3 separate regions of the Homo sapiens genome follow, and regions 2 and 3 are each linked to region 1. The links come from fine-mapping of genetic effects on gene expression. A gene starts in region 1. Each other region holds a variant in brackets. All regions are shown on one strand. Distances are between the middles of the regions.

Region 1 (10,083 bases):
TCTCAGACGGAGGAATAGCTCAGGCTTCGGAGTCCACAGACCACCATCACCCAGGCACCTGAATACACTCACAACCCTTCTAGGGGCACTGCTTTGCTGACGCACTGTTTCGTGAGCTTGCAAATCAAGAGAACTGTCCTGGGCCTCCAGCTTCCCTTCCCCCAGAACTGGCGGGCAGGGCAGGCTTTCCAGCTGGTTATTCAGAAGCAAGCCCAGATGCCCCACCGGAGGTGGGTGGAGGCTGCCCTCCGCAGTCTCGCTCTCCTGCATCTCTGGGGTTCCCCTCTCTCCTCTTGAGAACAAGAGATCTGGAGTGAGACAGGCATCCGTAAAATCCCACGATCGTGAGGCTTTGGGCAAAGCACTTGACCCTTCTGAAAGTATCTTTCTTGTGGAAAATGACAGTATTCATAATGGTGGCAATAATAAACACATTTAGAGTGTTTTCTCTGTGCTGAGCAGTTCTGATTTGCATATATTTGCCTCTCTTGGTCCTCCCAACAACTCTCTGAGTTAGGTACTTTTATTTTCCCAGTTGTCTTATGAGAAGCCGGAGCACAGAGAGGTTGAGTGGCATGTCCTGATACATCGTGGTACCGTGCGAAGGGGTAAATGTGATGGGAAAGTGCCTGGCAGGGCGAGCACCTAGTAGCTATTAGTGATATAGATGTCCCAAACTCAACTCATGATGGTTCGACTGACAATATTTCAACTTTATGATGAGTATCTATCTATCATCTATCTATCTATCTATCTATCTATCTATCTATCTATCTATCTATCTATCATCTACTTTATCTATCTATCTCACACACACTATATATATAACATATTTACAATGTTTAGGGTATTTTATTTTGGTACCAATTTTCCAGGACTATATATCTATATTTCATATTTTGGATATCTTGTCCTATTCCTCGATGACTTACATTGCTTTGCTAAACGTTTTCTCCTTGGAAATATGCTGTTCTTTGTTTCTCCCTCACAATAAGTGGAGCACAGCGTTTCTGGAGTCAGGAGCGATTTTGGCCCCGAAGGGGCATTTGGAAATGCCTGCATGCAGTTTTGATAGTCACGGTTCAGCTTTGGGGGGCGTGCACTGGTATCCGGTGGGTAGAGGCTGGGGACGCTGCTACATACCCTGCAATGCCAAGGACCGCCCCCTTCCCCCAGCGAAGAATTGTCTGCTTTGCTGAGGGTCGCTAGTGCTGATATTGAGGGGCCCTGCTCTAGTGCCTGGACTTGGGGATGTTCTCCTCGTGTTTGTAGCCAGGTGTCACCTAGGGATCTGCATTTCTGAAAAGCACGTGAGTAAATTCGTCTGTGGTGGTGAAATAGCGCAAGCCCTCTGCCTGGGCTCCCCTCTGGCTCACCCTGGCCATATGCATAAGCCCTGGCTCCGTGTCTGAGAAGTGAGGGGTGGAGGGAAGGACCATAATAGATTCCTTGCGTGGAGCTCCTGTGAAGATTAGAAGGGTGTGGCCCATGTGTTGTATAACTGGGTGGCTGGTGCACAGCAGCTGAGGAATAGAGATAAGCTGTTAGTATAAGCAGTAAATAAAATGGACCATACATTAGCAGTAGTAATACCTAATATTTTTGTAGCGCCTACCTTATGCCAGCCATTGCTCTGAATGCTTCTCTGTGTTAACTCACAGCTTCCTTATCAGAACCCGATGAGGCAGGTATTTTTTTTCTTTTTTTTTTTTTGAGGCGAAGTCTGGCTCTGTCGCCCAGGCTGGAGTGCAGTGGCGCCATTTCGGCTCACTGCAAGCTCCGTCTCCCGGGTTCACACCATTCTCCTGCCTCAGTCTCCCGAGTAGCTGGGACTACAGGCGCCTGCCACCACGCCCGGCTAATTTTTTGTATTTTTGGTAGAGACGGGGTTTCCCCGTGTTAGCCAGGATGGTCTCGATCTCCTGACCTCGTGATCCGCCCGCCTTGGCCTCCCAAAGTGCTGGGATTACAGGCGTGAGCCACCGGGCCCGGCCGAGGCAGGTATTTTTATTGTCCCCATTTTACAGATGCAGAACCTGAGCCCAGGGAACTTAAACTCCTCACTTAAGATCATGCTATGGATTGAAATGTGTCCTTCCAAAATTCGTGTTGGATTCGTGTTGAAGCCCTAACGTGCAATATGACTGCATTTGGAAATGTGGCCTCTAAGGAATCAAGGCTAAATGAAATCAGAAGGGTGGACCTTGATCTGATAGAATTAGTGTCATTATAAAAAGAGACACCAAAGAGCTCTCTCTGTCTCTCTCTCAACCGTGTGAGGACACAGCAAGAAGGCAGCTGTTGGCTAGCCAGAAAGAGTGGTCTCACCAGAAATGCATCGGCCAGAACCTTGATCTTGGACTTCCAGCCTCCAGAACTATGAGAAAACAAAAATGACTGTTGTTTAAGCCACCTAGTCTGTGGTGTTTTGGTTACCACAGCCCAAGCTGACTAATACAGATCATCTTCTAGTAAGTGGGAGAATGAGGACTTAACCCTCGCAAACTCAAGTCCAGAGTTTAGACTTTTAACTTTTCTATTTTCATACTTTCTACTGTCTCTTCTGCTGTATAAGTGATGTTATAGTTTTATGAAATATTTATATGTAATATAATAGAACATGGAATAGAAAATATTTCCTGCATATTCATTCTTGCAATGAGAAAATTATAACTAGGCAAGGAATATATATGGTACAATCTAAAGTGAGGATTAGGCCGGGCGCTGTGGCTCATGCCTGTAATCCCAGCAGTTTGGGAGGCTGAGGTGGGTGGATCACTTGAGGTCAGGTGTTTGAGACCATCCTGGCCAACATGGCGCAACCCTGTCTCTACTAAAAATACAAAAATTAGCCAGATGTGGAGGCACAATGCCTGTAATCCCAGCTACTTGGGAGGCTGAGGCAGGAGAATCGCTTGAACCCAGGAAGCGGAGGTTGCAGTGAGCCGAGATCACACCGCTGCACTCCAGCCTGAGCGACAGAATGAAACTCTCTCAATAAGTAAATAAATAAATCAAATAAAGTGAGGATTGAACAATTGAAGGGTCACTGATAATCACTGTAAGGATTTAGCGCCAGGGCTTGGCAGTACTCAGGTGAGTAAACGTTAGTTATTGCTAATATTATTCATTTATCTTATTATTGTTATAATTGAGTTAGTTCTGTGTTCTGATCCATGAGTGAATTGGCCTCCTGGAAGCTGCCCTCAAATCCCTCCTCTTTTACACAGTGATTGATGGTCCATGTCGCCTCCTTGTAGTTACAGATTAATAATAGGCCCTCCTCCTGGAAACAGGCCAAACGCCAAACCCCATGCAAGCTGGCCTGGAGAAAGCACTTCTGAAACTTCATCACCAGCAGGCAGCTAGACGACTGTTGAATGGGAGGGGGGGTGGTTTTGAAGGGTGGAATGGTGACAGAATTAGTCACCAAGTAAACAAGCAACACCTTCGATCAATGCAATGGAATGTAGGTAACCCAGGGGCCCTCCTCACTGCTCAGCTGAGGGTGACGCCAACATGGCCAGGCTGGCACACCCAGCAGAACCAGCCCTCTGCCCCCAACATCAGTAAAGACCTTGCAGGAGGAAAGAACAACCCCGCTTTGCCTGCCCCACAGTCCTGCAGCTCCATGTGTGTGCCCGCACAGTGCTAGGAACACGGCAGCTATTATCAGGAGTGCCAGGTACAGTGCTACAGGTTGCCTCCTGTACAAGGGGACACAGGGAACTGAAATCCAGTCCTCACTGAACTGCCCAAGCCCTGATTCCTGGTATGGGACTTTGTGGGTCCAGGGGCAGGGGTGCCTTGATCAAAATCACCTTGGATGTTTTAGGGCTGCTTGGTGATTGATGTTTTGCTTTCGGAGTACTTAATTATGTTTGCACAAACGGATGGTAATCCTAAAAATCTTAGAGCTCGCTCTCATAGTCTTATTATTGCACCAAACATTGTTAAGTGCATGATAATCGCAGGTAATTTTAATTGGAGGCTTACTATGTGCCAGGCAGCACCAGGGTGAGCATAGCAGGACACAAAATATAGGAAGGCAACCATCTCTGGTGCAGAATCGGCAGCAGAGAGTGAGCGCCTCCCTGCATTTTATCCCCCAGGTGCTCACTGGCTTCACCCTTGCCCTGACCCTGGTGCCAGGCACTTCACACACATTGTCTCCTTTTCCCTTGCAGAGTCCCATTATTCCCTGATTGCACAGATAAAGAAACCAAGGCTGAGCAATGCCATCCCCTCATCTCACGAACGTCACCTCCATGAGGGTAGGCACCTTACTAGTCCTACTTGCCCAAGAGTAGCAGTCAGAAAGCTACGGGGAGGCACACCTGGGGTTTGAACCTGGGTCCACGTGACTCAGGCACTCAAATCCTGAACTGCTTCAGGGCAGGGCACTTGGCTTGAAGAGAAGCTGCAGACACAGAGACAATCAAGTCACATCTAATACTCCAGCAGGACAGATGAGCCTGCAAGGTGCAAAGGTACCCCCGCCCCCAACCCAAAGCCTTTTTCAATTCCTCTCCCTCCACATCTCTTGTCATGGTAAAGCAGGCAGAATCCATGGGCTTTAACGGGCCCATTGCTTTTCCCAAAGCTCATGCCTTTTTCCTAAAAACAAAACCCTTCTGGGTTCCAGAACTCTTTGGAAAAAAAGAATCTTCTGTGATTTGGGACATTGGTTTGTTCCCCCACCCTCACTTAAATGAGAAACTACTTTAGCATGCCCCGCCCCGTCTGTTGTCTTTATTTAGGAGGAAGCACCCTCTACATACCCTGAGTATATACACCCAGGGCCTGAAGCTGCTGTGATCAGCTCAGGATCCCCAGGAGGCTGAGGCGGATCAGGCCCTGGACTCCGGGGGAACAATGTAAGGGACACCAAAAAGCTCAGCCATGGAGATGAATAGTATTTTAACATGAAATTTGTGAAAATCAAAATTACCGCTGTTCCTGATCTTATCTTTCTGTAACATGTTCATAGTTTGTTCATCACGGGTGTCTTGCCATTAATTCTGACTTTTAAAAATGTTGTGTTAACATACCGTTTATCTCCATGACTGAGTTTTTTGGCATCCCTTACATTTCGTGCCCAAGGTGAGAGTCTCACTGGCTGCACCCTCATCCCAGGCCCGACTGGACTCCAGTTCCACAGCATCCTTTCCATGAGACCTGGAACCAGATGCAGCTCCCTCTTCACCCAGCTTCATGTTCCTAGTTGTAAAATGGAGACGATGGTAACAGCGAAAACAAGAACCACAGCTAAGAGTTACTAAGTGCACAGGTATTTACGGGCAGTAGAGTCCTCTCAGCCCTTTGATCTCAGTACTGTTATTAGGTTCACTTTACAGATGAGGAAACTGAGGCCCAGAGGGCTGAGGGAACCTGCTCCAGGGCACCCAGCCAGCCCAGGGTGGAGCTGGGGCTGGCATCTGGCGGTGTGGCTGCAGCGCACCCGCATTCTAATCGCAATGACTCTTCCAGGCAGGAAACTGGTTCAGAGGGAGATGTAAACAGCAGGGGTCCTGAAGCCAGGATTTGAATCAGCAGCTGCCTCATAGGGTGGTCTTGAGCGTTAAATAAGATTCACAAAAGGCACTCCACAAGTCCTTTTTCTTGTCCTCCCACTTCTTTAGGCAATGCCTGAGGTGAAGGCTCAGATTCCACTCGGCTATGGGGCATTCTTGCCCTGACGGATCCCCAAATCACACAGCCTATCCCTCCATCCAGTGACTTCTCCCCATGTCCTGTGCTTGAAATGACCCTCAATAGTTCCACCAAATAGGAGTTATTTATGTGGCTATGCGCCTAACACTGACCACATTGTCATTTGCTCCTTGTAAAACTAAAAACTTTGAGATGAGTGCTATCTTTGGGTCCATTTCACAGATAGTGGAACTGAGGCTTACACATATCCAAGGCCACACAGTGAACAGAAGGCAGAGCTGGGATCAAACTTGACCCTGTCTGACCCCTGGCCTCTATATGACACCGTCTACCACAAACAGCAAACCCTCCAGCCATGCCTAAAGGATCTGAAAGCAGTTACCTGCTGAGCCCCTGTGGGAGTATCTTCAGTCCCCTCGTGTCACCCGGAGCTGCTCCTGCACAGGGTCCTGGGTCTCCAGTGCGTGCTGCCCAGTGCCTGGCTGTCGGTGGAGCCTGGCTCCCTGCACTTTGCTTCCTTGTGCAGAGCCTGCTGGCTGAATACACAGAGCAGGGCAAACACAAGCCTGGGTGGAGTCCTCCCTTCTCCCCGGACCATCCTGCAGAAACAGGTTCTCTTCCTGATGTGGGGCTGCCCTCCCAACTCCAATAAAAACTGAGCACCTGACTCCTCTCGCATTAATGCCTCCCTGGCACCCCAAGTATTCTACCCAGTGCCCCTCACCTACTGAGGCTGCCGGGTTGACCTGGGGAAGCAGTTTCCTTCCCCAGTAACCGTAGGTCATGGTCAGAGCAGGGAAAACACGTTCTGTGAGATTTTGTAGTTCTGTCTGCTGACTTCAGAACACCACCTCCACCACCACCTAACCACCTAATTGGAAGGAAATAGCTTCTCATCCACTCAACTACCCCTAGTCATGTAAACCTTATTCCCAAAGGGGTTTGGACACCAGAAATCAGGTAACCTGAGGGTGGTTTATTGCTCTGGAGACATACCATGATGTTGGAAAGGGCATTCTTTTTCTTTGCAGGCCAGAAATTCGACAGGCTATGCAATTTATTTAATTCAAGCAAGGATGTTGTTTAAAGTGTCTTACAAGGACATATACAATAGATTATGAGAGCATGAAATAACATGTAACAAAAGAAGATTGAAGAACAAAATTTGGAACATCAAATGAGAACAGGATCAAAAATAAATGCTCTTGTTGATTTACAGACTTGCTATGAAGGGTTTGCAGATATGGCTTTGAGCTTCCTAACAGCCAATGCAAGAAAGGAAACTTGATAAGTTACACTACTTAGTGCTCTGGAGAAGACATTCAAGAGAATTGCGACCAATAATTATTGTGGTTTTATTCAACAGTATACTCAGCTTAACCCCTATCATGAATACTTGTCAAGCACCAGGCTATATATATAAGCCAGAGTTTAAAGAGGTGAGTAAAAGATGCTGGGTCTCTACCCTTCTTGCACTCAGTGTCATTGGACATAGAATCCTGTAAATATAAACATAGAATTACAGGGTGTGATTCTCATTATAAAAGAAAAGCCAAGGCAGCTAAGGGAGAGAAATAGAGAGAGCTGGGGAAGGCCTCTTTCAGAAATCAACATTTAAGAAAAAAAATACTATTTAAATAAATGCTGAATACACAACCAGGCACACCGTAATTAGGGTTGTAAAGTCGATTCCAGCTCAGCACTGTACATGTCAATCTGGAATGTAGTAAACCCAATTATTAAGCAGCTGCCATGCACACGCTCTGTGCTGACCCAAGCCTGGAGGCTCAGGAGCTTGAGCTCTGGCCCTGGGTTGAGACAGACAAGGGCTCGGATCTTGATTCTTACTGATCGGCTGTGGAATTATGAGCAAGCTACTGTACTTCCCTAAGTCTCTGTCAGCCCCCTCAGCTGTGTGCTCCTTTGTGTTTATTTTGCATCTATTCTTGTATCCCCAACTCCTGGCACCCTGCAAAACGAGGATGGGGATCCCTCTATGATAGAGTAGGTACTCTGCAACTCCTGGCTGATTGGACTTGTTCATTCTTTTTTTTTTTTTTTTTAAGACGGAGTCTTGCTTTGTCATCCAGACTGGAGTGCAGTGGTGTTATCTCGGCTCACTGCAACCTCTGCCTCCCAGGTTCAAGCAATTCTGTTGCCTCAGCCTCCTAAGTAGCTGGGACTACAGGTGTGCACCACCATGCCTGGCTAATTTTTGTATTTTTAGTAGAGGTGGGGTTTCTCCATGTTGGCCAGGCTGGTCTGGAACTCCTGACCTCAAGTGATCCACCCGCCTCAGTCTCCCAAAGTGCTGGGATTATAGGCGTGAGCTAACACTCCCCATTGTCTTGCTCTCTTTTAAATTATACATGGCAGTAACTGCCATTTGGATGGCATTAGTCTTTGCAAAGCCTTTTGTGTTTATCCGTCCATTTCATTTATGTCCACAGTGAAATTAAGATCTTTTGCTCCCATTTTACAGAAGAAAAACATAAGGTTTAGGGATATGAGTGATTTAGGAGATTAAGAAAAATCATTCAGGTGGGGGCACTCAGCAGTGTGTCTGGCAAAACGTAGACCATCACCAAGCATCAGCTGGTGTAGTCAAGGGTGTTGATGAAGGATCTGGCAAACTGTAGACCATCACCAAGGATCAGCTGGTGTAGTCAGGAGTGGTGATGAAGGGTCTGGCAAACTGTAGACCATCACCAAAGATCAGCTGGTGTAGTCAGGAGTGGTGATGAAGGATCTGGCAAACTGTAGATCATCACCAAGGATCAGCTGGTGTAGTCAGGAGTGGTGATGAAGGGTCTGGCAAACTGTAGACCATCATCAAGCATCAGCTGGTGTAGTCAGGAGTGGTGATGAAGGATCTGGCAAACTGTAGATCATCACCAAGGATCAGCTGGTGTAGTCAGGAGTGGTGATGAAGGGTCTGGCAAACTGTAGACCATCACCAAGCATCAGCTGGTGTAGTCAGGAGTGGTGATGAAGGATCTGGCAAACTGTAGATCATTACCAAGGATCAGCTGGTGTAGTCAGGAGTGGTGATGAAGGGTCTGGCAAACTGTAGACCATCACCAAGCATCAGCTGGTGTAGTCAGGAGTGGTGATGAAGGGTCTGGCAAACTGTAGACCATCACCAAGCATCAGCTGGTGTAGTCAGGAGTGGTGATGAAGGGTCTGGCAAACTGTAGACCATCACCAAGCATCAGCTGGTGTAGTCAGGAGTGGTGATGAGGCAGGACCGGCTACATAATCTGCTGAACCCAGTGCAAAACAAAAACGATGAGCCCTTTGTTCTAAAAGCAGGGAAAAGTACCGTTAAAGGTATGAAACATAAAGCTGTTTTCTCTCCTTCCTGGTCTCTTTCTCTACCTGTCATGTATTTTACTTATTATTTGAAGTCATTCTAAGGGAAGAAAAAATAAAAATGTAAGTGATCAGCGTGAGTTTTGCCATCCGTCTTTAGATCAAGCCATGCTGGTTTGAAATGCAATGAACTCGAGGGCAGAATCACCAAAATCATACGACTTGTATTTTGTAGTTAGTTACGGGGCCCCCGTAGTCTGTTCTCACTAAAACAGTGTAAACGCTGCATAGAAGTCATCATTCAACTGTTTTTACTCTACCTCTGGATACTCACCCATTCTACTAATGCTCTCTATCTTCAGTTTATTGATGAATAAGGAAAAATCAAAAGAAAAAGAAACTCTAAGCTGCCCTATATTTCTGTCTTGCTATGTTATCATTTTCAGCACAAGTGGTTGGCCCTTACAGGGAGGTAACCTGGGTAAGAAAGGCTAGGATAGGATTCTTTTGTTGTTTGTGTTTCTTAGAATGTGCTGCCTTTTTTCTGTATTGAAGATAATTTCTGATTTGCGTGGAAAGCCTGGACTCTTGGGGTGTCAGTGCCTCCACATACTCAATTGCAGCTGTAACTCACATGTGTTTTACTTGCTTTGAGGCTTACTGAATAGTCATGAACTCACTGGCATTCTCTGCTCATGGGCATCATGGATGTTATATGTGAATAGGTGGCAATGAACAGTAGACTTGCATATTGCTTGTATCTCATGACTATGCTTCATTGTCTCATCAGATTTTACTTACTCAACCCAAGTTCAAAGATAACACTACAACTGACCCTTGAACCACAAGGGTTTGAACTGCATGAGTCCACTTAGACATGGATTTTTTCCCTTCTTCTGCCACCCCTGAGACAACAGGACCAACCCCTCTTCTTCCTCCTCTTCCTCAGCCTATGCAATGTGAAGATGACAAGGAAGAAAACCTTTATGATGATCCATGTCTACTTAATGAATAGTAAATATATTTTCTCTTCCTTATGATGTTTCTTAGAATGCGTTGTCTTTTTAATGTTCTTAATACCATTTTCTTTTCTCTAGC
Region 2 (10,083 bases), 22 kb before region 1:
ATGAGAGGTGGGATTCAAAGTGGACTGAACACTTGACCTATTTCCCAATTTGCCTAGGGCTGGCCCAGCAGCGAGGCAGGTTCTAACCAATGAGCATCAGCTTTGAATGGAGGGGCTGATAGGCCAGGTGGGCCCTGCTTGCTGAGAGTGTCATGGCCTTAGGGACATCTCCATGTTGCAGAGTCTGAGCCTCTGCTTGGCAAATTCAGAAAATCCAGCTTTTCTTTTTATATCACCTGGAGCTGATGTAACTCTCAGAAGGCATTTTTAAGAGGACTCATGAATTAACCACATAGCCAACTTACTGGCTTAAGACTACGTGACAGAAAGCTGCAAAGGGGGCCAGCCACTGGTAACATCCCACCACTGTCCCTCTCTGTGGAAAACACAGATGGGATGCACATTGTGACGGGCAGGATGCCTGGAGAGCCCACAAATCTGCAAGCACAGCTGAAATTGGTTACAGGATTTCAATGTTTCATTGCTTGAAGCTATGATAACTTGATGATGATGATGATGATGATGATGATGATGACGATGATTTTTTTTATAGCCATCTTTTTAGAGGGATTTGAGGTAGGGAAAAAAATAAACCTCACACTATCGGAGGTTGCCAACTATGAGGTCTGCTGATGGTTTGGCCAACACAGTGTTTATATTTTTTTGAATTGGGAAATTTCATTTAAAAGTCCTAAAATCAGGCTGTTATTGAAATATCTTATTATTGGCTCAGGGTTTCCCAGGGCAGCCATCCTTGAAGCTGTGTGGAGCCCTATAAACAAGGACGCTTTCCAGTTCCCTGCAAACTCCATTTCATTCAGAGCCTTGAGCCAGTTCTTACATGGTCCTCAGACTTGAGCTAGTGCAAGAATACCCGGGAGGGGTTGTGGGAACAGATAGCTGGGCCCCACCCCCAGGGAAGGGGGTGTTTCTGACTCAGGAGGTCTGGGCTCCGGCTACAGAAACTGCACATCTAACCGGTACCCAGGTGATGTGATGCTGCTGGCCCAGGGACAACTCTGCGAGTCACTGCTATTGGGCACTGCTATTGCACCCACACAAGGAGGCAGGCTCTGCTTACATTTTTCAGTTCTTGTTCCCAGAAACATTTGCTCTTTGGGGTATGCTTTGCATATAATGGATCCTACCCACTAATACAGTATGCTGCTTTTATTGATAAACTTCCAGAAACTTGAAGCGCACCTTACCATTTCTTTGATCTCGCTGATTATTTTTATTTTTGTTAAATGAAAATTGTTGGTAAGTTCTTTTTGGTGTGGTAAAAGGATATGAAAAGCTGATTTTAAAAAAATGTCCACTCTAGGATTAGAATTGTAGGTGTGTTTATTCTATTTCAAGATCTGGTTAAAATGCACCTTGAGGAAAAGAATTGAGTGCAGCTGTTGTTATTTCTCAATGCTGTTTCTCTTTTCATGTTTTTTTCATGTTGTCTCTTGGTCTGTCCTATCTCTCTTGGTCTATCCTCCAAGACAGAGATGAGTGATCTTGAAACCCTGCCCATGTTTTTATCTTTGGAGCCCAACTGTGCTGCCTTGTTTTCTTCTCCATCCAAAGAGGCAAAGAGAAAGTTGCATATTACTCAACAGCAGTTGCATGACAGTTAAAATCAGACTGTATGAGTCATGGAACAGTAAGTTGTGTCCAGAGTATCTGTCATGGTAAGTACAAAAAAGTCCTTAAAAATTTAAAACAGAAATGCCAATGTTTTATTTTTGAAAAATGTGAAGAAGAAATTTTCCGGCCGGGCGCGGTGGCTCATGCCTATAATCCCAGCACTTTGGGAGGCCAAGGTGGGCAGATCACCTGAGGTCAGGAGTTTGAGACCAGCCTGGCCAACACAGTGCAACCCCATCTCTACTAAAAATACAAAAATTAGCCAGATGCGGTGGCACGCGCCTGTAATCTCAGCTACTAGGGAGGCTGAGGCATGACAATCGCTTGAACCCAGGAGGCGGAGGTTGCAGTGAGCTGAGATCATACCACTGCACTCCAGCTTGGGCAGCGGAAGGAGACTCTGTCTCAAAAAAAAAAAGAAAAAAAGAAATTTTCTAAGTGTATTCCAAATAACTTTTAATATTGGATAAACATTACGAGTTTAAAAATACTTATGCCAGAGGAGTGCTGTGACTCGTGCCTCTAATCCCAGCAATGTGGGAGGCCAAGGAGGGACAGTCACTTGAGCCCAGGAGTTTGAGACCAGCCTGGATAACAAAGGGAGACCTCATCTTTACAAAAAAACTAAAAAATTAGCCAGGTGTGGTGGTGTGTGCCTGTGATCCCAGCTACACAGGAGGCTGAGGCAAGAGGATTCCTTGAGCCCTGGAGGTCAAGGCTGCAGTGAGTGATGATCATGCCATTGCACTCCAGCTGGGTGACAGAGCAAGACCTCATCTCAAAAAAAAAAAAAAAACAAAACAAAACAAAAAACTTACGCCCAGGTAAAAATTGTCAGAGAAAAATAAGAAAAAAACTGAATGCCCAAAATTAGCATAATGGCTGAATGAATTATAGTATGTCTATACCTTGAAGTACATTGTAGCTTTAAAAAAAATGAATTAAAGTTATACCAGTTGAATTTGGAGTTGAGATGGGGAAGATTATTACAATTAAAAAAAAACAAACACTATTAATGGATGTGCTGGGAAATGTCTGTATGGGGCTAGTTAAAGTAAATTAAAATAAAGACCAGACCTGAAGAATCCCTGAGCGGACAAAGCCTGTTAGACCACATAAATGAGCTAAACCTTGCTTGATTTGCAGACATAAGCAAAACAACTCGAACTGTTTCTTGTAAATGCCTATGCTAAAGAAAAACAGAACTTGAGCTCAACCAATCAGAAACAGTCAACAAACTTAAAATTATATAACTGGGTACCTTCCAATGAGATGATCAAATAAGGCAACTGTGTAATTGTAACACATCAAACACATTTTATATTATGCCTCTGCATTTTCCCTTAATTCTGGCATGTAATGCTTTGTCATCAAAACACTAATTCCCTTTTGGTTTTCTTTTCTCAAATTAATGAATTGCCTCTATTCAGATACACTCTTTGAAATTTTATTGTGTCTCAGATTTGTCTTTTACAAAGTATAGAACAAAGAGAAAAATATGAAAGAAGAAATATTAGGTTGTTAGCTTGGGTGTCCTTGGAGGGGGTAGGGAAGATGTGAGATGAGGAAGAAGCCAATAAGAAAAAGAAAAAGACAGGTTTCACCAAAACAACAATAACAGAAAATATGATTGCATTTATTCATATATGTTAATTGGTATGTATGTAAGTATATATGCATGTAAAAATAAAATACAAAGAATTAAAATGCATACTAATAGTTATTTCAGTTATCTATGGCTGTGTAACAAGCATCCCCAAAATGATTGACTTAACCACCATTTTATTAGGTCATGATTCCATGCATTAAGAATTCAGGGCCGGGTGCGGTGGCTCATGCCTGTAATCCCAGCACTTTGGGAGGCCAAGGTGGGTGGATCACGAGGTCAGGAGTTTGAGACCAGCCTGCCCAACATAGTGGAACCCCGTCTGTACTAAAAATACAGAAGATTAGCTGGGTGTGGTGGCGGGCACCTGTAATCCCAGCTACTTGGGAGGCTGAGGCAGGAGAATCACTTGAAGCTGGAAGGCAGAGGTTGCAGTGAGCCAAGATCATGCCACTGCACTCCAGCCTGGTGGACAGCGCGAGACTCCATCTCAAAAAAAAAAAAAAAAAAAAGAATTCAGGCAGATGCCAGGTGCAGTGGCTCATACCTGTAATTCTAGCACTTTGGGAGGCTGAGATGGGCAGATCACCTGAAGTCAAGGAGTTCCAGACCAGCCTGGCCAACATGGTGAAAACCAGTCTGTACTAAAAATACAAAAATTAGCCAGACATGGTGGCACGTGCCTGTAATCCCAGCTATACAAGAGGCTGAGGCAGGAGAATCACTTGATCTGGGACGTGGAGGTTGCAGCAAGCCAAGATCGTGCCACTGCACTCCAGCCTGGGTGACAGAGTGAGACTCTGTCTCAAAAAAAAAAAAAAAGAATTCAGGCAGAGAGAGGATAGGATCAGCTTATTTCTGCTCTATGATGTCTGGAGCCACAGCTGGGGTGCCTTGAAAGGATGAAGATGGCTGGGACGGCTCACACAGGGACATATGTCTGGAGCTTTAGTTCTGGCTATGGGCTGGTTCCTATGGTCCTTCCTCATACGGCATCTATTAGCTGAAATGCCCATGATGTCTTCTTTAATCACAGGTCTGGTTCCTGGACTGGGATGGCTGGAATATTTGGGAACTGGCTGGGTACCTCTCTCTTGCCTCATGGCTTCTTCATGTGACTAGCTTGGGCTCTCTCACAGCATGGCAATCTCAGGGTAGAACTTCTGATATTGTGTCTAGCCTTTCTCAGAGCTAGTGTTGCAAGAGACAAGGCAGAAGCTCCGAGTCTTCTTAAAAGGCTTCTTGAAAGTCCTGTGTCATCCCTTCTACTACATACTGTTGGTTATATAGGACCAGCCCAGAGGGGACTACACAGGGGTGTGAATACCAGGAAGCATGGGTTATTGCGTGGTGGGTTGTATGTGTGCATCTTTGGAGACTATCAACCACAATAATGCAATAGGGAAGATAATTTTATCTAACAGGAATTCTCCACTAGACTTTTTGGTGAGAAAAAGCACTGAGTTTGAGAAGGATGAGATTTCCCCAGGGCTCTTGCTCACTCCCAAGGAAGACAGAGGCACAAGGAGCTGTTGGGCCATCTGGGAGAGCCAGTGTTCAGAACTCTCTGTTATTACTTTAGACTCAGTGGTGATACAGTGCAATGGAGGGAAAGAAGAAAGGAGAGTGCCTGTGAGTGTTACCAGTGGAGAGTTGTCCAGGTTCTTGGTGTTTTGAACAAAAAAATTGGACAAAATGCACAAAGCAATGAAAGCACAGATTTATAGAAATGAAAGTACACTCCACAGAGTGGGAGCAGGTTTGAGCAAGTGGCTCAAGAGTGCTGGTTACAGAAATTTCTGGGGTTTAAATACCCTCTAGTGGTTTCCCATTGGTTACTTGGTGTATGCCCTATGTAAATGAAGAGGATGAAGGGAAGTTACAAAGTTATTTACTTGGTGTACACCCTATGCAAATGAAGAGGATATTTCCTGCCATAGCTGAAGTGCAGTTACATCCATAGTTGAGCATAGAAAGTTGTGGGTTTTCTGCTTGATTTAGTTCTAGGAAGTCCTTAGCTTCCCCGCCTCCAGACCCTATTCCCCTACCTCATGAGGATGGGGTGTCTCACAGAGTTTCAAGGTGGAGAGTTGAGGATAGGGAGCCTCTTGAGTGAGAGACATATAGCAATGTGAGGAGAGAGAAAAGTGGTGTTTAGGATGTGAGTTAGATCTCCTTAATGTCTTTTGAAAGGCCAGAGTGAGGATATGAACTACTTTCCTTTGCTCAATTCTAATAATTCTTTGGAATCACCTCTGGCAGACACTGTTTGTGGCCTGCCCAATAGCCAATC[G/A]TCTCCAGCCCCAACCATGTATTATTATTATTCACTTGCATCTCAAAGAGATGCTTGATTCCCAGTATCCCATGCAGCTGGTATGGGCCATGTGATGTAGCTCTGGCCAATAAGAGGATGCCTACATGGTGGCAGAGGCTTCAGGGAAGGATCCTCCTTCCTCGCATAATACAAGGAGAAAAAAAAATGGTGGCAAAGTTTGGCCTTTCCTCTCCTGCTTTTGGATCCCATGATGTAGAGATGTGATGTTTGGTTCTGTGACAGCCATCTTGTGAGCAGGAGTGACACAATTGGCTCATGTACTTGGTGTTTTGATGAGGCTGTCAGACTGCTGTACCAAATTTAGAACTGCCACCTCCAGACTTCTTGCTCAAATTAAAAGTGCTATTTACTTATCCAGGGTTGCATTCCTTGAAGCTGAGTGCAGCAGAGTCTGGGAACTTGCCCTTCGGCCTTATTATTTTATTCCTCTGCTACCACTGGCTTAATATGCCACTGTTCATTGATCAACCATTTCTAAGTCTTTAGTGTATCTCAGGCCTTGTGCTGAGCTCTGGGACCCTCATAACAAGAAAGGATGGCAAGCGTCCTGCTCTCAGGGACTTTTACTTGAGTTTGGAAACAGATAAAAAATAAGATCAATTGGAGGGAAATAGTGGACACTAGGAGAACACATGTATTTGCTCCCTTCCAGACAAGTGCTGTTGCCTATATTTTTTACTACATCAGGGAGCTATGCTTTTTGGCATCAGGTCTCCCATTCCACTTTGACTAGGCATTGATATTGGCAAATGCTTCTCTTCTCACTCATTATGTTATTGGCAGGAGCACTTTTCTCAAGTTAGAATTTTCAATCCAATAAAATGATTCCACTTACATCTTTTTTTTAAGAAAAGCAAAATTAGTCTATTCTTTTTAGGAACAATGACTAGGAGCAAAAAAGGAAAATACTAATTTTAGAAACCTTTTATCCAGGTCAAACATTCCTTCTGTTTCTGGAAAATGACGTGTCCTGGCAGGGAAGGCATGTCTTAGTCTCTGCCATACGTTAGCAGTGAGGCCTGAGAACTAATGTCATAAATTTGCTAGAAAGGAATCAAAGAAGGCCAAAAATCAGGCATTTTTATTTCTCCAAAGATCTATGAAGTTTTAGGCATAAATAATATGCAGGTGGGAAAATCTGGTCAGGTGATATGTCAGGGAAAGCCAATGGTAAAGAATAAGTATGAAAATAGCCTCTACTTTTTTTTTTTTTTTAAATAGAGATGGGGTCTCTATGTTGCCCAGGCTGAACTCAAACTCCTGGACTCAAGCAATCCTCCCACCTCAGCCTCCCAGAGTGCTGGGATTTTAGGCGTGAGCCACTGCACCCATCCCAATAGCCTCTACTTTTAGTTTTGCCCGGACTCCTTTATTTCAGCACTTTTATCTTGTGCCAGCTGCTGTTTTTAGAGCTCCCCTACAAAGTTCATACTATTATTCCAGTTTTACAGATGAGACTCAGAATAAACTTCCTTGCCAAGGTTGTACAGCTAGTGAGTGGCAGAGCCAAAACCTATGCTTGGGTCTGTTAGAGTCCAATGCTTGAGAGGATATGGTTCCATTTCCGATTGCTGTAATGAATTATCCCAAATGCCCCAGCACAAATATATTACAGTTCTGAAGCCTGTAGGTCAAAAATGGGTCAGCTTCTAGAAGCTGTAGGGGAGAATCTATTTCCTTCTTTTCTCTGGTATCCAGAGGTCACCTACATTCCTTGGCTTGTGGCTCCATTCTCCAGCTTCCAGTCCAGCAGTGTAGCATCTTTAAGCCTCTCTCTCTTTGTGACATCTGCTCCCATAATCACACCTTTTCCTACTCCAACCCTTCTGCCTCCCTCTCATGAAGACCCTTGTGATCACACTGGGTCCACCTGGATAATCCAGGATAATATCATCATCTCACATTCCTTAGTCACATCTGCCAAGTCCTTTTGCCATGTAAGGTCACATACTCATAGGTGCTGAAGATTAGATGTGAGCATTTGATGGGAGGAAGGGCACCGTGCCTTGTGCTGGACTCTTAGCTATAATACTCTGTGGTCTCATACATGAAGAAATTGCATAAGTAAGTTGCACTCCCTAGTGTATGCACTCTCAGTGGGGATGGTATTAATCCCAAGAGGGCGAAAATGGTTCTATGGGAGAGGATGAACAAAACTCATTCTTTTTACGTATAGAGCACAGATACAGTACATACACAGATACACGTCAGTGATATTACAATTTCATGAATGGGATGCGCTTAGCTCTTAATGCATTACCTCGTCTAGTCCTGGATGTCACCTGCGAGGCCAACGTGTCATCTCACTTGCCCACCTGCCTTCTTTGCCCTGGCCGTCCACGCTCTGCCTCCCCTTGCGTCCCTCCCCAACACCTCAGCTCTGCTTGAGTGAGAAGATGACTCTGGGGTCCCCCTTGAGAACATATGTGCCTTTTAAAACTATGTTTTTGTTATTGAAGAACAAATGTTAACTAAATCACATCAGCATTAGCTGCACTCTCACAGAGCTTGGTTTTATGCTAATACTGGCCATCTATCTCTTTAGGTGGGTCTTTTGCAAAGAAACAAACTAGAAAACAACTATATTCTCAAGGTGGTAAAAAGCCTTTTTAGGTATTTCCTTCCCAGAATCTCTAGGCTTAGGCTTTCTCTTCTCTTTTTAGCTTTTGAGTGAAAAAGGTAAGGAGCAGCCGTCATTCTCCTTTCTTATTGGTGGGAAAGTGATTGTTGCATATTAATAGGGGTTGTGGCACCTCCGTGGTAATGTTTCACTAAATGGAACAGCATATTCTCTTTCTAGGATGATTAATTTTGTGTGGCCTGACAGTGGTGTGTGGGACTAAATGTTCTGTCCTTTCTAACTGCCTGATCTCTGAGCCATGGGAGATTGAGTTTCTCCTTCACAATCCACCAAAGTTTGCATGTGAACAAAACAGGGGATCTCTGTACGCAACAGGAGGGTGATGTGCTCAACTGTGAAGTGTGGTCCTACTTGAAGTTGTCTGATTCAATGAGATGCAATAAATTAACATACCACATGTATTGGGGGGAGGTGAAGAGGTACCAGATGACAGTCTCCTGAGGTCTCCCTCTCTTGGGCAGTATATGGGAGGAATGGGCTGACAAAATAGCTAAGAGATGTCATCTCTTCACAAAACACCTCCCCATCACATTACTTTCTTTTGTGCAGACTCCTCCTGCCCCCAGTGATGAATCCAGAGGAAGCAAAAGAACTGGTTGAGCAGAAGACACCCTTCTAACATAGCAAATGATCTTTCCCCCCATTCTTTATTGAATTTATTTTTTTTCTTTAGTTGATGTGAGCTGCTTTTGACTATGCTGGTTTTTTTTTTGTTTGTTGTTGTTGTTGTTGTTGTTGTTGTTGAGATGAGGTCTCTGTCTGTCTCCTAGGCTGGAGTGCCGTGGCACGATCTTGGCTCACTGCAACCTCTGCCTCCCTGGGTTCAAGAGATTCTCCTTCCTCAACCTCCAGAGTAGCTGGGATTACAGACGTGTGTCACCACGCCCAGCTAATTTTTGTATTTTTAGTAGAGACGGGGTTTCACCACGTTGGCCAGGCTGGTCTCAAACTCCCAACCTCAGGTGATCCACCTGTCTCGGCCTCCAAAAGTGCTGGGATTACACGCGTGAGCCACTGCACCCAGCCAACTATGCTGATTTTTAAAAAACTTCATTGTACCTTAACAGCATTTACAAAAATCAGATTTATCTGATTGAAGTATAATTCACATACAATAAAATCCACCAACTTTAATAGCACAATTCAGTGCATTTTGACAAAATATGCAGTCATGTAGCCTCCACCATGATGAAGGTATAAAGCTTCTCCATCATTGCAAAGTTTCTCGATGCCCCTCTGCAGTGAGTGTCTCAACCAGCCCCAGCCCCTAGCAACCACTGATCTACTTTCTGTCACTACATTTGTGCCCTTTCTAGAATTTTATATAAGTGGAATCATGTAGTATGTTGCCTTTTGTGTCTGGCTTCTTTTTCGTAGTATAATAATGTTGAGATTCATCCATGCTGTTGCATTGATCAGTAGTTCCTTCTTATTTATTGCTAAGGAGTATACCATCTGCTATAGCCTGAATGTGTCCCCCAAAATTCATATGTTGAAACTTAGTTACCATGTGATCATATTAAGAGGTGAGGCCTTAAGGAGGTGATTGAGTTTAGAGGGCAAAGACCACATAAATGGAATTATAGACTTTATAAACGGACTTGAGGGAACTAGTTAGTCCCTTTCCTGCCCTTCTGTCGTGTCTGCCATCTGAGGACACAGCATTCCTCCCCTCTGGTGGGCACAGCAAGGCGCCATCTTGGAAGTAGAGAACAGGGCCCTCACCAGACACTGAACCTGCTGGTGCTTTGATCCTGGACTTCCCAGCCTCTAGAACTAAGAGAAAAAAATTTCTACTTTTTATAAATTACCAGATCTATGGCATTTTGTTATAGCAGTACAAACAGATTACGAGACCATTGTACG
Region 3 (10,083 bases), 69 kb before region 1:
ATGTGCATTATTCTTAGAATTAACAAAACTTTTGAGCAATAGAGTGGAGGGGAAAAGAGGAGAAAACTGCTTACCAGAGTTTTAAAGAAACTCATGATGGAATTATTATTCTCTGCTATAGCTGCTGCCTGGGAATCGTCCTTTGCAGTCTCCAGTCCTTCTGGGTCCCCAGGGACAGAGCAATCCGCAGTTCCAAGTTCTTGTCCTTCTTTTTCCTTGCCGTCAACTATGTCCTAGGGGCAAAACAGTTGTCACAGTTGCCACTTGCTGAATGTGAACTCTCAAAGTCATACTTTTGCTTCACACCCCTTTCTCTCTTACCCCCTAATTCCAGCCATACTTCTTCTGCCCACAGGCGTGCAGAACAATCATGAGATTATAAGAGTCACTCTTCCTTCCCTCCCCCTCTTTCTAACATATTCAGCATTTGCTGTTGGTTGGAGGGACATTGTTTGGAGCCAAAGGGTAACAAACACAGCAGTGCACGTTGCATTTCAAACAAAAACCCTTTTCTTCCAATTCTGCAAAGAAGTTGTGTAAGGTATCGATATTTTCCATCTTTATAGTCTCCTTATCTATGATGTGTACATTATCCCCAGAGATGGCGTTTCCCACAATTTCCACAGAGTTGGATTATATCAACTAAAAAAAAAAAAAAAAAAAAAGAAAAAGAAAAAGAAAAAGTACTGGTGTTTAAAAATAACTATTTTGCTTTTGAGATATGAGGTTCATCTGTGCAAGGGGTGTGATAGGGGAACTGATTTTCTCCCCGACCTCCTCAGGAGGGTAGGATGCGTTCTGAATCTGCCTTCCTTTCACCATCTCACCTCTCACGACCCCAGGACAGGAAGCTACTGCCTCTCCACCTTCTGACTGCAACAGCCCTGGCCTTGTCTCTGGTTGGGCTCTTGACCCTCACAATACATTCTTTACTCAACAGATCCCATCTTCCCACTCCTTACCACCCTCCAGTAGCTTCTGACAGCTCTTGGAGTCAAGCCCAAACTCTGATGCAGGATCTCCAACGTCTAACATGGTCTGCCCCTGCCTAAATCTCCATCCTCTCTGTACCACGTGCTCCTTCATTCCATTTTCTGGCCCACTTTCTTTGAGTTTTTCAAACATACCACAGGTTATTTCCAAACTTCTGGCTCTCTGTTTGAAACATTCTGCTCCTCTGTCTGCCCGTAGGTAATTTCCATCCATCCTTAAGGTCATAAGTGTCATCTCTTTGGAGAGATTGTCCCTAAACATTCATCTAAGGCTGTCCTCCCACCACTGTCGTCTCCACCAGAGTCCCTTGCCCTTTTAAAAATCTTTGCTGTGTCAGCAGTTCTGTTTACTTCTCAGTCTTTGTGCTTTTCCTCATACTCCCATTAGACTACAAACTCGACAAAGACAGGGATAATATCTACTTCACTCAGTGCTTTTCTCAAGTACCAAGGACAGCGAGGCCCACAGAAGGCATTCAATAAATATGTATCATTTATGAAAATTTTACAAACATAGAATAGTGCTATCTGTACCAGCATAAATTCTCATGTGACAAAGTAGTACAGAAACTTCCCATTGCAACACAGCTAAACCTGCCTCATTCTTTACGACTCAGGTGACATTTATTCCATTGCTTGGTTATAACATTGTTTATTGTCTAATATCCTTATTGATGGACATTCACAGTGTGTATAGTTGTACATCTAGAGTATTATAAGCAGTAGTAAAGTGATCATCTCACACTTTTATTTTTAAATACTCATGTATCTATATTTTCTTTGGGTAAATTATCAAAAATGAAATTTTTGGGTCAAGAGGTATGCAAATTATATAAACTTGATGAATATTCTTGCAAAAAATGAGAAGGTTTCAACAGAGAGGTCCTGCAGGTACATCGGTGCATCTGAGAAGCTGTTTGGTGCACCGGAGGTTGTGACAAGTGAGACCTAAAACGTATCCGGGCTGGGCAGGTTGGTGCATGTGGTTGTGGCCTGGCAGTGGGGAGCTTGGTCTGGAGGTGGGTGGAGTGAGGGAGGCGGACTCGACTCTCACCTGCTGGTTGAGCATCGTCTTCACTCTTCGCCCTCCCTTTCATCCCCGTGTAGTCCTTCCTTTCATCCCAGGGCTGTGGGTTCCGCCTTCTCCACACCATCTCCCTGCCCCCATGCTGCCAGTTCCCTTACTTAGAGGAGAATGAAAGGAGACACTTCTGTTTCCTCAAAAGCGATTTCTAACAATTCGCAGTGTGTGAGGTGGCAGAAGCCCACAGAAGACTTGGTATTTCTATTTTGACCCCTTCTCTCAGTAGTGGAGAGTGGGATATGGTGGCACTGCATTTAGACTCCTGGATTTTATACTTTCTCCTCTGGGGTTGGCAGTGTCTGGACAAGCAGTATAAATTGATATGGGTTGACTATCCCAACCACTGAGATACAATTCAACTCATTTTAATGGACGATTGTATTGGGCCATTTTTTGCGTTGTTATAAAGACATACCTGATTCTGGGTAATTTATAAAGAAAAGAGGTTTCATTGGCTCACAGTTCTGCAGCCTTTACAGGAAGCATGGGACTGGCATCTGCTTGGCTTCTGGGAGGCCTCAGGAAGCTTACAATCATGGCGGAAGGAGAAGTGGGAGCAGGCACAGCACATGGTCAGAGCAGGAGCAAGAGAGAAAGAGTGGAGGGGGTGGTGGGACAAACTTGCAAATGACCATATCATGTGTGAACATAGAGCAAGAGCTCAGTTACCACCAAGGAGATGGCCCAAGCCATTCATGATGGATCCACCCCTGTGATCTTTCACCAGGCCAAACCTCCAGCATAGGGGATTACAATTCAACATGAGATTTAGGTAAGGACAGATGTGCAAATTACGTCAACTACTTATTAAGCATTACATGTACACCAGTGCTTTCTCTTTCCTAAGCTAGTATAATTTGAACAAGGTCGCTTAATCTTAATATATTATTATTTATTATAGAATAATATACAATGCCAATACGTCAAATATTTTACATTTACAGCATGCAAACCACTATACAAATAAATGCATTAAACATATGTCACTTAATCTTTACAACAATCTTCTGAGACAAATATTACAATTAACAGTTTCAAACAATGAAATGAGGCTCAGAGAGTTTAGGTTACTTGTCTAAGGTCACACAGCTTGAGAGAGGCCAATATGGGGATTATAAGTCAGGCCTGTCAGAACTGAACATCTTAAAATTCTATAGATTATTTGGCTATGAGTGTCAACTTTGCTAAACTTATATAGTGTGTGCAGTAAAATGTAACATCATATAAATTAAATCCAGGTGGTGGAAAACCAAGATCCTCATAGGGAGTGTATATAAATATAGACTACATCCATAAATTCCACCAGTAAAAACCCTTCATAACTTAACTCTCCCAAAAAGTACTGCACTTATAACTTGTTTAAACCATGTCATCCTTACGTCTTAAACAATGCTTGTTTATGCTTGTATAGCTTTACAGTTACGAGGTGCCTTCACAAATCTATCTTATCTAATCTTTGCCAAGATTGTGCAAGGCAAATTACAGATGAGAAAACTGAGGCCCAAAGAGGTTTAAACATCATGTCCAAGGCCACAGTTGGCAAGCGTAAGCATTAATTTGTTTTTGCCTAAGTAGCATTCCTCACTCCTTGTGACAACAGGACCCTCCTGCTCATTCCTGGAGAAGTGCCCCTCTTCCATTCCATTCTCATTGCTTTCCTGCCCGTTTTTTTTTGTTTTATTTTCCCCCTGGGTCACTCTTTTGTAACCCCAGTGACCTGCTTGCTCTTCTTTGAACATGTCAAGTAGGCTGTTGCCTCAGGACCTTTGCATCTGGGCTGAGCTTCTGCCTGCCAGGAGCATGTGACCTTACTTCTTTCAAGTCTTTTTCAATTGTCACTTTTTTCTTTTTTTTTGAGACAGAGTCTCACTCTGTCACCCAGGCTGGAGTGCAGTGGCATGATCTTGACTCACTGCAACCTCTGTCTCCCTGGCTCAAGCCATTTTCCTGCCTCAGCCTCCCAAGTAGCTGGGATTACAGTGTGTGCCACCATGCCTGTCTAATTTTTGTATTTTCAGTAGAGATGGGGTTTCACCGTGTTGGCCAGGCTGGTCTTGAACTCCTGACCTCAGGTAATCCCCTCACCTCGGCCTCCCAAAGTGCTAGGATTACA[G/A]GCATGAGCCACTGCGCCTGAGCCAATGGCCACGTTTTCATCGAGGTCTTTCTTTACCACTCTACTTTAAGTTGCTATAATATATCCCGGCATATCTGATGCTGCTAATTGCTTTATTTTTCTCCTAGTAGATTTCACTTCTAATATATTACTGGCTCCTCTTCCCCCTAAGGACATCTGGTAATGTCTGGAGACATTTTTTTGATTGTCACGAGTAGCGGGTTAGTGATTTACCACTGGTATCTGGAGGATAGATGCCAGGCATGCTGCTAAAATTCCTGCAATGCCCAGGACAAAGAGTTATCTGGCTCTCAGTGGCAAGACTGAGAATTATATTAAAACTCTCACTTGTCATTTTGTGTTTTGTTCCTCTCCCTTCACTGGAATAGAAACCAATGAAGGTTCTTTTTCTCCCTTATGTTTCCCCAGCACCCAGACTTGTGCACATGGTACAATCTCAAAAATTACTAGTGAATGAATGAACAAATGATTTAATCCAAGTGAGAGTATCAGTCATCAATTTTTAGCCATTATGATTTCAAATATTTTTTCTTCTCTCCTTTTCTCTCCTTTCATGGACTCCAATTACCTGCCTACTAGCCTACTTGAAGTTATCCTGTAGCTCATTAATGTTCCTTTCTTCCTTCTTTTTGAAAAAGCCCTCTTCCTTTTCACCCACTGCCCTGTGGTTCCTTTTGGATAGTTTCTATTGCTGTGTATTTAAATTCACAATTTTTTTTTCTGCATTGTCTAATCTGTTGTTAATGTCATCCAGTGTATTTTTTACCTCACACACTGTAGTTTTTATCTCTAGAAATTTGATTTGGATTTTAAAAATATATCTTCTATGTCTCTACTTAACTTTCCAAACATATGAGACACATTTATGCTAATCCTTTTTATTTTTTTGCCAATTCTAACACCTGTGTCAGTTCTGGGTAGGTTTTGGTTGATTTCTCTTCACATCATGAGTTACATTTTCCTGCTTCTTTGCTTCCCTGGTAATTTTTGTTTGCATGTCAGACATTGTGAATCTTACCTGTTTGGGTGGCTGGATATTTTTTGTTCCTATAAATATTTTTGAACTTTGTTTTTGGAGGTAGTTAAGATACTTAAAATCAGTTTGATCCTTTTAGTTCTGGCTTTTAAGATTTGTTCGTGAAACTGACTTTGCAAAAATTATGAGTGAAAAAATTATGACTGTGAAAGAGATCTGACCTAACCAACACCATCTTGCCTTTAACTTCCAAGCTGCCCTTGTTCATTCCTGGGGGTAGGCCACACTAACTTCGGGAGGAATTTAGTTATAGTTTAACTTTGAAACAAAGATAATAACAGTCCCTTCCCCAAACAAGCCCCCTTTATTCTTGGGGACCAGTCCACCTTTGTAAAACTAGCAAATTAGACACAACATTAGAAATTATGGCTCAGGAGTCATACAGCCAGAGGCCACAAGATTCTTCACCTCCCCAGTTGTTCTTATGGATAACATTACTGCTGTAAAACCTAATATTGGTGTTTGAGATATTTTTCAGACCCTGCATTCTGGTCTGGCTCATCTGGACTTGCGGCCCCCACCCAAGAACTGACTCAGTACAAGAGGACATCTCTGATGTCCTATGATTCTGCCCCCAATCAACTAATCAGCATTCTCCACGCCTTAGCAATCTGCCCACCAAACTGACCTTAAAAAACTCTAGCCTCTGAATTTTGGGGGGAAGCTGATTTGAGTAATAAAAAAGTTCTAATCTCACATTTAATTGGCTCTATGTGTAGTAAACTCTTTCTCTATTGCCATTCCCCTGTCTTGATAAATTGGCTCTGTCTGGGCAGCGGGCAAAAATAACCCATTGGCAGTTACATTAGGTAGGACCAAAATCGTGTCTAGTCTAGGAAGCTAATATTTTCTCGCTAATGAGGAAAGACCCTGTGACTACTCTACCCAGTGCCTTATTAATAATGAGGTTTTCTAGTCTGGCTGGTGAGAGAAGGCACTCTCTCTGGCCCTGTGTAAATGCCTTTCTGGTGGTTGGTTTTTTTTTTTTCCCCCTTCAGTCTTTGCTAGTTTCCTCATATGAACATATTGGTCAGCTCTCTGCCTCATACTATGTGAGGACCTTTGACAGACCCTTGGAGTTTGCTCTCTGTGTATCTCTCTCTCTCCTCTGATGCTTTGTCTATGAACTCTGGCCACCTTGGGCTCAGGGAGCCTGCTGGGCTCTGCCTCAGTTCCTCCCCCCTAGGCTATGGGCTGGAAACCCTCTCAAGGCAGTAGGTAGGAGCAGACACAGGGATTATCTCTTATGTCCCGTCTCTCAGAGAACACCTATCCTTGTTGCCTGATATCTTAAAACAGTCTTAAAAATTGTTGTTTGGTTTTTTTGTCCAAGTTTTCATCTGTTTTAGGCAAGAGGGCAAAGCCAGTTCCTGTAACTCTCCCTTAGCTGAAAGCTTCTACTCTGTTAATAGTAGAGAGTGTTGACTTCCTGTAGCTGGCTACAGGTGAGTTCGTTTTTGGTGATGCATGAATCTTGAGCTACATTATCATGTGAACAGCAATGAGGATCAAATCAGGTCTGAAAAGAAGTGAGCTCCCTAAATTTGAAATTAATAAGTGTATTTGAAATATGAACTTTGTCACCAAAATTAATAATAAATCTTGTTCTAGGGGTGTAGCAGATCTTTTTATATTAATTAGTGATAATGATTATGAACATTATTTATAAATGAATAAATGAAGGGAAGAATGAATGTCAATGATCAATCTCTCTTTCTTTCCCATAGACTGATATTCAATTGAGTAATTTTGCAAACAAGAATTGAAGCTCATTATCTCTTACTGCTATTTGTTTTCCTAATTCCCCTCTCATCAGTACCCATCATACTGAATCATAATTGATTAATTGCCAGTATCACCTGCTCAACTGGGCATTTGAGGACAGGCACTGCGTGTGTCTCATTCACAACAAGATCAAGTGGTTGATAAAAGTTCCAGTGCCTGACAAAGACTCCATATTCACCTCCCAGCTCCACTCACAGGTTGAGGAACCCCAGCTGGGGTCTTAGCCTCTCTGAGACAAGGTCGTCTCATGGAACACAAGATTAATAATAAACCTTGCCTGGTATAATTCGTTGTGAGTTTCCATAAGAAATAATGCATGTAAATTCCTTAGCATAATGCCTAGTATAGAAGTGTCCAATAAATGTTAGCCAAACAGACAAAAAAAAAAAAAAAAAAAAGCAATGAAAATGCCATACAATTTGCAAAGTTCCTGACACAGAGTAGATTCAGGAGAAACATTTGTTAAAGGATGAAAGGATATGGAGTAAATTCTTTTTTCTATGCCTTTGTACACTGTGCTCTCCAGCTTCTGTCTTCCCTTTTGAAATCTATTCTTCACGATTGGAATCAAGTCTCCCTCTCCCACCGACGTTTTTCTGGGTCAGGCCACCCATGGACTCTGTCCCCTTCTCTGAATTTCTATACCACAGTTCTCAGCACTCAGTTGGTACTTAGATTATGCACTTAGACCAGCCTAACACCAAAGGCCAGGTTGGAATAGTTTGCATTAAAAATGGGGCTTTTGTGAAATGGCTGCAAAAATACAAAAAGCACATTTTGGTGAGTATTTTAAAAGTAACAATAATACACATATTCTACAAGGGTTTCAATCAGCCCCAGGACTCTTTCTAAATGGAAGCATATTTCTTGTGAAATGCCTCATGAGCAGCTGAAGCTTCATAAAACTAAAAGCAAATAAAAGCCATGGTCTTAATAGTCTTGTTAGGTTTTCTGGTTAATTCTGGGAGAAAAGTGTTTTGCTTTGGAAGAGATGTACTTTTTAAAAACAGGTTCTAATATGAGTTGAACTTTTAAAAACTAACTCTGAGGTATAACTGGGATCCAAGCGGTTAAGCTGGTTGATTAGAAGGATGGCTGCAAATTCTATTTATAGCAGATGAGTGTTGATATACGTATGAGGAAGGCGATTTTATTTTAGGTGGTATGTCCGCGCACACACACAGTTATTCTTTTAATGTGTATTGTGGACTGAAAGTTTGTGTCTCCCCAAAATTCATGTGTTCAAATCCTAACTTCTGATGTGATGGTATTAGGAGGTGGGGCCTTGGGGAGATGACTAGGTCATGGGGTGGAGCCCCCATGAATAGGATTAGTGCTCTTATAAAAGAGACCCCAGCGAGCGTTCTAGTCCTCTTTCCATCATTCCAGGGTGCAATGAGAAGCTGGCCATCTGCAACCCAGAAGAGGGTCCTCACAAGAACCCAACCATGCTGGCATCTTGATTTCAGACTTATAGCCTCCAAAACTGTGAGATATCAATTTCTGTTGTTTATAAGCCATCCAGTCTATGGTACTTTGATAGCAGCCTGAACTAAGACAATGTGCACTAGAAAAATATGTCCAGCATCAACCTTTTCATATTATGGATATTTTTGTGTAGGTGAAGTTCAATATAAAGTAAACTTTAAATAAAGCTATTACATGAATAACTGAACAGGTGTCTTGAAGATGAGTCATTATGAAAGTGGCACAAGACATAAATCTAGACTGAGAAATTCCCCACAGGCCTAAGTAAGGTGTTGCCCAGGAGCACCATTCATGAATTCATCCTCACTCAGTAACTATGTGGGGGTAGTTACATTACATACAAGCTGTGCAGAGGCCACACAGCATTAGCATGGGCTCTGAAGTTATGCTTTCACTGTGTATTGTGGACTTAAAGTTTGTGTCTCCCCAAATCCTAACCCTCAATGTGACTACATACAAGCTGTGCAGAGGCCAGCTGCCCAGGTCCAATCCCTGCTCTGCCATCTACACCTCTGCAGTACTGCACTTTCCCTAACTCTAGGTTGCAATTTGCTCATTTGTAAAAGTGGGGTGATGAGTAGCACCTGCCTTTTAGGGTTGTTGAGGGAGTAAATGGGATAATCCATATAAAGGACTTAGGAGAATGTGCAGTACAGAGGAAGCATTCAGTAATGGTTAGCTATTATTATTGTGTTTAATTTAATTACTGAGCACTGTGGTAAGCTGTGAGATTTACAAAAATGAATCTGACACTGTCTTCTCTCCTAGATGCTTGGAGCCTTATGGTGGATAAAGGTCAGTAGATAGGGACAAGTACTCTGATAAAAAGACAAGTGAGGCTAAGCACAGTGGCTCACATCTGTAATCCCAGCAATTTGGGAGGTCAATGCAGGAGAATTGCTTGAACACAGGAGTTCAAGACCAGCCTGGGCAATATAGTGAGACCTTGTCTCTATGAAACAAAGCAAAAACAAAACAAAACAAAACAAAACAAAACAGAAATTAGCCAGGCATGGTGGCATGCACCTGTGGTCCTAGCTACTTGGGAGGCTGAGGCAGGAGAATTGCTTGAGCCAGGGAGGTCAAGGCTGCAGTGAGCTATGATTGTGCCATTGCACTCCAGCCTGGGTGACAGAGCAAGACCCTGTCTCAAGATAAAAAGAAAAAAAAGACAAGTTAATTTCATCAGCCCAGTGGGTCTCAGCATAACTGGATTTTAGAATCACCTGGGCAGCTTTTTAAACAAATGCCAATACCCAGATTCCACCCCGACCAATTACATTAGTCTTTTTGGAGGCGAGGCTCAGATGTCAATATTTTTAGACCTCCCCAGGTGATTCCAGTGTGCACCAAGGTCAAGAGTGACTGAACTAGAAGGGAGAGGGAGACTTGAAGATGAAGCAGCATTTCCCCAAGGCCATGGAGCATAGGTTGCAAGTAGACTCGCAGAAACAGGGAGGAATGCGGGATGGTGATGGAGAAATTTCTGTCAAGTGGACATGGAGGAAGGCATGTGAGAAATGCAGAAAAAGATGAGGTGGGGATGGGTTTGGGGAGGGTTTAG

Direction of the effects. Alleles are on the strand shown, and positions count from the first base shown. SD is a standard deviation of normalised expression in the study named. Not every link is listed here.
As copies of G replace A in region 3, the expression in visceral fat of the gene that starts at base 6,217 in region 1 goes up (small effect, 0.35 SD a copy in GTEx).

Evidence for each region.
Region 2: its variant is fine-mapped to the expression of BCAS1 in whole blood (TOPMed, PIP above 0.99). The same link has a PIP of 0.9 or more in blood mononuclear cells.
Region 3: its variant is fine-mapped to the expression of BCAS1 in visceral fat (GTEx, PIP above 0.99).

What each region holds. Positions count from the first base shown.
Region 1 is chr20:54,064,378-54,074,460 of GRCh38, forward strand. It overlaps BCAS1 (brain enriched myelin associated protein 1), which reads right to left and starts at 6,217. Exons shown (of 13, transcript NM_001366298.2): 1 at 6,056-6,217. It overlaps MIR4756 (microRNA 4756), which reads right to left and starts at 4,108; the gene lies at 4,031-4,108. RefSeq lists an enhancer at 4,936-5,810.
Region 2 is chr20:54,042,796-54,052,878 of GRCh38, forward strand. All of the region lies in intron 3 of BCAS1 (brain enriched myelin associated protein 1), which reads right to left. Among named protein-coding and RNA genes, the nearest start is that of MIR4756, 21 kb to the right of the region's middle. The variant G/A (reference allele first, on the strand shown) is at 5,535.
Region 3 is chr20:53,995,818-54,005,900 of GRCh38, forward strand. BCAS1 (brain enriched myelin associated protein 1) reads right to left here. Exons shown (of 13, transcript NM_001366298.2): 5 at 75-233. Among named protein-coding and RNA genes, the nearest start is that of MIR4756, 68 kb to the right of the region's middle. The variant G/A (reference allele first, on the strand shown) is at 4,190.